Homo sapiens: one gene and its partner. The protein of the gene in region 2 purifies or fractionates together with the protein of the main gene of each other region. This does not show direct contact. Each region holds a gene or a part of one and is shown on either strand. Other genes may lie near its edges.

Region 1 (3,500 bases), on a different chromosome or scaffold from region 2:
AGTTCATGGATTGAAAAATCCAATACTGTTAGTTGGCAGTTCTCCCCAAACTGATGTATAGATTCAGTGCAATCGCTACCAAAATCAAAGCAGAGGCTGGGCATGATGGTTCATGCCTATAATCCCAGTACTTTGGGAGGCCAAGGCAGGAGGATAGCTTAAGCCCAAGAGTTTGAGACCAGCCTGGGCAAAATAGGGAGACCACATCTCTACAAAAATATTGTTAAAATAGCCAGGCATAGTGATGCACATCTGTAGTCCCAGGCACTCAGGAGACTGAGGTGGGAGGATCGTTTGAGCCTGGGAGGTTGAGGATGCAATGAGCTGCAACTGTGTCACTGCACTCCAGCCTGAGCAACAGAGCAAGACCCTGTCGAAAGAAAGAAAGAAAAGAAAGAAGAAAAGAAAAGAAAGAATGAAAGAAAGAAAGAAAGAAAGAAAGAAAGAAAGAAAGAAAGAGTGACAAGATGATCCTAATATTTATATGGAAATGGAAAGAACCCAGAATACCCAAAACAATGTTGAAAAAGAAGAACAAAATTTTAGGATTCACCTTTCTCAATTTAAATACATATTACAATGCCACAATAGTCAAGACAGTAGGGACTGGCATAAGAATAGAAATATAAACTAATGGAACACAATTGAGAGGTCGGATATAAACCCTTATATTTATGGTCAATTGGTTTTCAAAAAAGGTTCCAAGTCAATTCAACAGGAAAAGGTTAGTTTTTCAACAAATGATGATAGTACAGTTGGATATCCATATGCAAAAAGATTAATGAAGACCTTCACCTTACACCATACACAAAATAACACAGAATGAATCAGAGTCATAAACGAAAGACGTAAAAGTATAAAACTTTTAGAAACATAGGAAAACCTTCATGATATTGGATTGGGCAAAGAATTATTAGATACAACATCAAAAAACACAATTGACAAAAGAAAAAAAATAACTTGGACTTTATCAAAAATAAAGAACCGAGAGCCCCTCTGCCACTGCCATTGCAGCAGCTCTGTCCTTGCTGCCCTAAGACTGGGGAAGGAATAAAGAGCCTGAGGGATTTACTTGCACCTCCAACATGCCACAGTTGCCATACAGAATAGAGCCAAGTCTCTCATCTCTGTGAGCCTCCAACCCCCTGGTCTTCACCAAGCAGGGCCCCTGGCTTGGGCCCACAGAACAGCTGCCCTACCTCGTGGCTGAACATACCCATTGTCAGTGGCTCTGTGTTGCTCTGGGGTGGAGCTCCCAGAGGCAAATGAAATGCCCTCTGAGACTGCCACTGCAGTGGTACTGCCTTTGCTGCCCTTGGATTGGGGAAGGAACAAAGACCCTGAGTGCTGTACTCATACCTCCATCATGCCACAGCCAACCTAAGAAGAGGCTAGTCTGTCTTCCCTGTGAGCTCCCTTCTCCCCCTCCCCATTCATCACCAGGCAGGGCTCCCTGGCTCGGGCCCACAATGCAGCCACTCCACCCCAGGATGAATGCTCCAAATGATAGTAGTTCTGCATTTCTCTGGAGTGGAGACCCAAAAGACAAGTGAAAGGCCCTCTGCAATTGCCACTGCCAAGGTCCCTGCCCCTGCTGCTCCCAAGCTGGGGAGGGAACACAAAGCCTGAGCTCATCTGAAGGCTGCATGTGAAGCCCAAGAGTGTCAAGCCAAGCTCTGCAGCCAGCACTCAAGTGGGAGAGGAGCCCACACCCTCAGAGCACCAAGAGGGAGCATGGCCGCAAACACAAGGAAATAGAGGAGTCATGTGGCTGAGCAAGAGCCTACCTAATGGCCATTACACTTAAGCACCATCTACTGGATCACAGCCCAAATTTTGACACCAAAAATACTTACCTAATATATCCCTCTGTGAAACGAAGAACAAGAATTCAGCTACAAATAAAGACCCCGCACAAAGCTCCAGCACTCTGACAATGTCCAGAAATGAGGTCAACTGACTATACTCAAATCACACCACAGTTAAAGAAACATTAGCCCACACACAGGAGAAAGAACCAGCACAAGAACTCTGGCAACCCACAAAGCCAGAGTGTCTTTTTTCCTCCAAACAACACTAGTTCCCCAGCAAGGATTCTTAACCAGGCTGAAATGGCTAAAATGGCAGATATAGAATTCAGAATGTGGATAGGAATTAAGATCATTTGAGATCCATGAGAAAGTTGAAACTGAATCCAAGGAATTTAAGGATTATAATAAAACAATACAGGAGCTGAAAGATGAAATGGCCATTTTAAGAAAGAACCAAACTAATATGATAGAGCTGAAAAACATAATACTGTCCATGAAAATTTCCCAAACATCACTAGAAAGGACAACATTCAAATTCAGGAAATTCAGAGAACCTCTGCAAGAACTATACAAAAGGACCATCCCCAAGACACATAGTCATCAGATGCTCCATCAAGCTAACAGCGACCTTTCAGCAGAAATCTTGCAAGTCAAAAGAGATTGGGGGCCTAGATTCAGCATTCTTAAAGAAAAGAAACTCCAACCAAGAATTTCATATCCAGCCAAACTAAGCTTCATAAGCAAAGGAGAAATAAGATCTTTTTTTTAGACAAGCAAATGCTAAGGGAATTCATTACCATCAGGCCTGCCTTACAAGAGGTCCTTAAGGGAATGCTAAATATGGAAACAAAAGACTATTACTGGCCACCACAAAAACACACTTAAAGACATAGGCCACTGACACTATAAAGCAACCACGTGATCAAGTGTACATAATAACTAGCTAACAACATGATGCCAGGATCAAATCTGCACATATCAATATTAATCTTAAGTGTAAATGGGCTAAATGCCAAAATTAAAAGGTATCCAACGGCAAATTGGATAAAGAAGCAAGACCCGGTGGTATGCTGTCTTCAAGAGTCCCATCTCACATACATCACATACAATGACACCCATAGACTCAAAGTAAATGGATGGAGAAAAACCTACAAAGCAAACAAAGAACAAAAAAAAGCAGGGATTACTATTTTAATTTCAGACAAAATAGACATTAAACCAACAATGATGAAAAAAGGCAAAGAAGGACATTACAAATGGTAAAGAGTCAACAAGAAGACTTAACTATCCTAAATATATATGCACCCAACACAGGAGCACCCGGATTCATAAAACCAGTTTTCAGAGACCTATGAAGAAACTTAGATAACTATACAATAATAGTGGGAGATTTCAATACCCCACTGACAGTATTAGACAGATCCTCGAGGCAGAAAACTAACAAAGATATTTGGGACCTGAACTCAGCATTTGATCAAGTGGAGCTAACAGACATCTACACAACAATCCACCCAAAAACAACAGACTATACATTCTTCTCATCTGCAGATAACACATACTCTACTGACCACACAGTCAGCCATAAGACAATTCTCAGCAAATTAAAAATTTTTAAAACCAACAAAAACAAAAATCATACCAGCCACATTCTCAGACCACAGCACAATAAAAATAGAAATCTATACCAAG
Region 2 (3,500 bases):
TGAGAAAAATTATTTTCTAGTATGTAAAATACTGCTTAGTCCTTTTAAAAACATGGTCTTATGCTATAGATTCTAATATTGTATAGGGTAATTTGAAAGATCCCATGTGCTCTGGGACCAAAAGCAGTTAAGGATAAAAAGATATATCTTAGATGTATGTGTTTTTCTTATCTACAATTAAGGTGATACAGGCTCTAAGCTTACAAATTATATATAAATATAGATGCTTAAACAGAGACTATGCTTCAACAAAATCTGCATACCTTACATGTTTTGTACTATTTTTTTTCACTCTACATACTACTTATCCATTAACTACTCTTCAAAAACAAAATTTTAAAAGTTGCATAAAAATATTCTATCATTTACTTAATGTTGACAGTTTAGTTCTTTCCATTTTTGCAATTACAAAGTGTAAGAGACATCCATATTCATACATGTTCGTCTGCATTTCTAATTATACTTCTAGAATAGATTCTTGGGAGACTTACTGTTCAAAAGGTATGAATATTTTTATAGATCTTGATAATATTGCCAAATTGCTCTCTACAAGTATCTTATTTATATTGCAGAAAAACAATTTCAACTTACAAACATTTTGTAAGAGAAAGAACACTCCACCTATTCTACAGACTGAAGTCTCTACTAACTTGGTTAATCTTATATTCTATTCATTTTTATAATAGTAACAACCCACTATTTTTTCTACTTCAAATACAGCTTTAAAATGACTCAGTAATGATACTTCTGATCACATGCCAATTTAATCGTTTCAGTTTTTTTCTCAAGTTTTTAGAATTAATGGAAATGAAATTGTACACTGTCTGACCTTTAAATATTTACTTGACAGTGCCTCCTTTTTCAGTAATAGTATGGTGGCTTGGCACTTCCAAAAAGCCTTCATCCAATGTCAGTTAAATCAGAGTAAAAAGCCTCAACAGTTCTAACTTAACGAAAGCTGTTCACTCTATTGGAAATGAAAATATGCAAAAAAAAAATTAAGATAATCAAGAGATAAGATAAAAAATGACTTGAGCCTGTGTTAGCGTGCACATTTCTATTTTAATTCATTTTCCAATTTACTGGAAACCTCTTTGGATTAAAAATGAAAAGGAAAATAAACTATTTTGATTCTCTTCTTGTCAATAGAACACAAGCTCACTTGACTTTCAGTACATGAGAAATTAGCAAATAATATGTTTACCTCCTTTTTAGACTCCTTGAATAGTGCTGTACTTGCAAGAGCCCAGTGGCAGAAAGGAAGTCCTTCTGACATCAAAGCACAAAGTGTTGATTTGTGTAGGAAACTTTGGGGACATCAATATACACAAATAAAAGAGTATTTCTGTAGTTATCACTATAGTCACTGTTCCACTTTTATTTCTCGTGGCCACATCCACAAAATGGGACAATGTTTGGCAGCTGAGTTTAGCAGAACATTCTCAACTGAGGTTCCTGAGCAGTCACATAAATACTACAGTGAGCATGCCAGGGCATGTTTTATAGGAGTCTGCTCTTCTTTACTTTAAGCTGTAAATGTACCTTATACAGCAGAGTACAAAAGACAGCTCCAAGTGAGAATTACCTTCGTTCTCAGTGCCAAAACAGTGGTAACACTGTGGTGTGCAGAAAGCCCATGAAAACATGGGGTCATGTAGACCTGAGTTCAAATCCCAGAACCTTGGCCAGGCATGGTGGCTCACGCCTGTAATCCTCACATTCTGGGAGGCAAAGGGAGAAGATCGCGTGAGGCCAGGAGTTTGAAACTCACCTGGGTAACACAGCAAGATCCCATCTATACAAAAAAAAATTTGTTTTTAAATTAGCCTGGTGTGTTGGCACATGTCTATAATCCTAGCTACTTTGGAGTCTGAGGCAGTAGGATTGCTTGAGCCCAGGAGTTTGAGGCTGCAGTGAGCTATGGTTATACCACTGCACTCTAGACTGGGTGACAGAGCAAAAACAATACCACAAAAAAAAAAAACTCCCAGAAAAGCAAATCCCAGAGCCATTATTTACTAGTCGTGGATCACAGGTGAGTCACATTCATCTAGAAAATAGTTACACTGACTTCTACCACAAATATATAAATGAGATTATTCTTGTATTAACGACATATCAGGTGTCTGATAATCTTAGTTCCCTTTTTCCATACTTTTTTTTTTTTCAAAGAACATATAACATGTAATTTACTTTTAGATGCAAGATTCACTTCTTTCAACTCCTACCATGCCCATTAATGTGTTATTAGGGGTCCTCTAGAATTGTGAAAATCCCTAAGTATTTGTGATAAACAGAAATGCACTGTTAGGAGCCAGGCTATAACCACAAAAGACTAACTCCTTTGACCCCATAGCATTGGCCTCCTGTGTCCAGGCAGTGGGACTCCACCACTCCGCCAACAAATACTTGTTTTAAAATGAGTAAGGAGAAAATATACAAACACCCCAGAGTTCTATATTTTGCAGATGAAACACCTGTAGGCATGGTCTGCACACCCTTCAATCATCCGGCCTTGAACCCACCTCAGGGGTTGATCAGCCTCTGCTTAATCCAATCTAATCCTTTACCTGTAGGCCTGTCCTTTCGATGGTTTTTCTGGATACCAGTGATTTTTATATTTTTCTTGAAGTATTAGGGTCAATTTCTCAGCAAACCTCTCAACTGCCTCTTTTTTCAACTTATCATGTTTTCGAACTAGCCTTGTGAAAAAGAAGACAACGGCAGCAATTTCATTCTTCATTTTTTTCCCTGCAAAGATAAAACATGTTTTCTCAGAAAAACAAAATATAAAAACTGGGAAGATGAAGCTCTGTAAGATATACCTCCTTTACAGCTCTCCCCTTCCTCCTTCCAATTTTATCTTGTATTTCTTTGGCTTATATCTGAAGTAGAGAACAATCTACTTATCTTTATGCCATAAAGGCCTTATTATAAAATACTACTTAAAAATCTTATCACTTAGCTTCATGAAGAAATTCCATAAAGATAGCACGTTGCTCCTGTTGGCTAAAATAAAACCACACCTATCAGTAAAAGAGAAGCACTATAATAAATGATACGACATAGATGTTACTGTGTGTGTCAATATTTAGCTGCAATAATCTAAGTTTAAAATTCTGTGAAATGATTTGAACTTTAAAACATAAAAAAAGTCTACTTTAAAATCTAGAACTGTAGAGCTATTTTATAACAGAAAAGTTCGGCAGTTCCTAGAAAGGTTAAACACAGAGTTATCATATGACACGGCCAATTCTACTTCTATTTGCCCAAGAGAAATGAAAACATATGTCCACACCAAAACCTTGTACAGAAATGCCCATAGCAGTATTCATAATAGCTAAAAAGTGAAAACAATATGTTTACCAACTAAAGAATGGACAAATACTGTGTTATACACACGTATGGAATATTATTCAGCAATGAAAAGGAATGAGTACTAATACAAGCTACAATATGGGTGAACCTTGAACACAGAAATGCCCACAGCAGTATTCATA

The links. Proteins that work in one complex are often made in the same cells at the same time.
Region 1: the proteins of BTG3 (region 2) and TMLHE purify together in Homo sapiens (affinity purification with mass spectrometry; one large-scale study listed by BioGRID and IntAct). This does not show direct contact.

Annotation. Positions count from the first base shown.
Region 1 is NC_000023.11:155,602,953-155,606,452, forward strand, and holds part of TMLHE (trimethyllysine dioxygenase, mitochondrial isoform 1 precursor), read right to left. Parts: intron 1-3,500. UniProt on the Homo sapiens protein: Converts trimethyllysine (TML) into hydroxytrimethyllysine (HTML).
Region 2 is NC_000021.9:17,606,402-17,609,901, forward strand, and holds part of BTG3 (protein BTG3), read right to left. Parts: intron 2,752-3,500; coding exon of another isoform or gene 2,744-2,751; coding exon 2,571-2,743; intron 1-2,570. UniProt on the Homo sapiens protein: Overexpression impairs serum-induced cell cycle progression from the G0/G1 to S phase.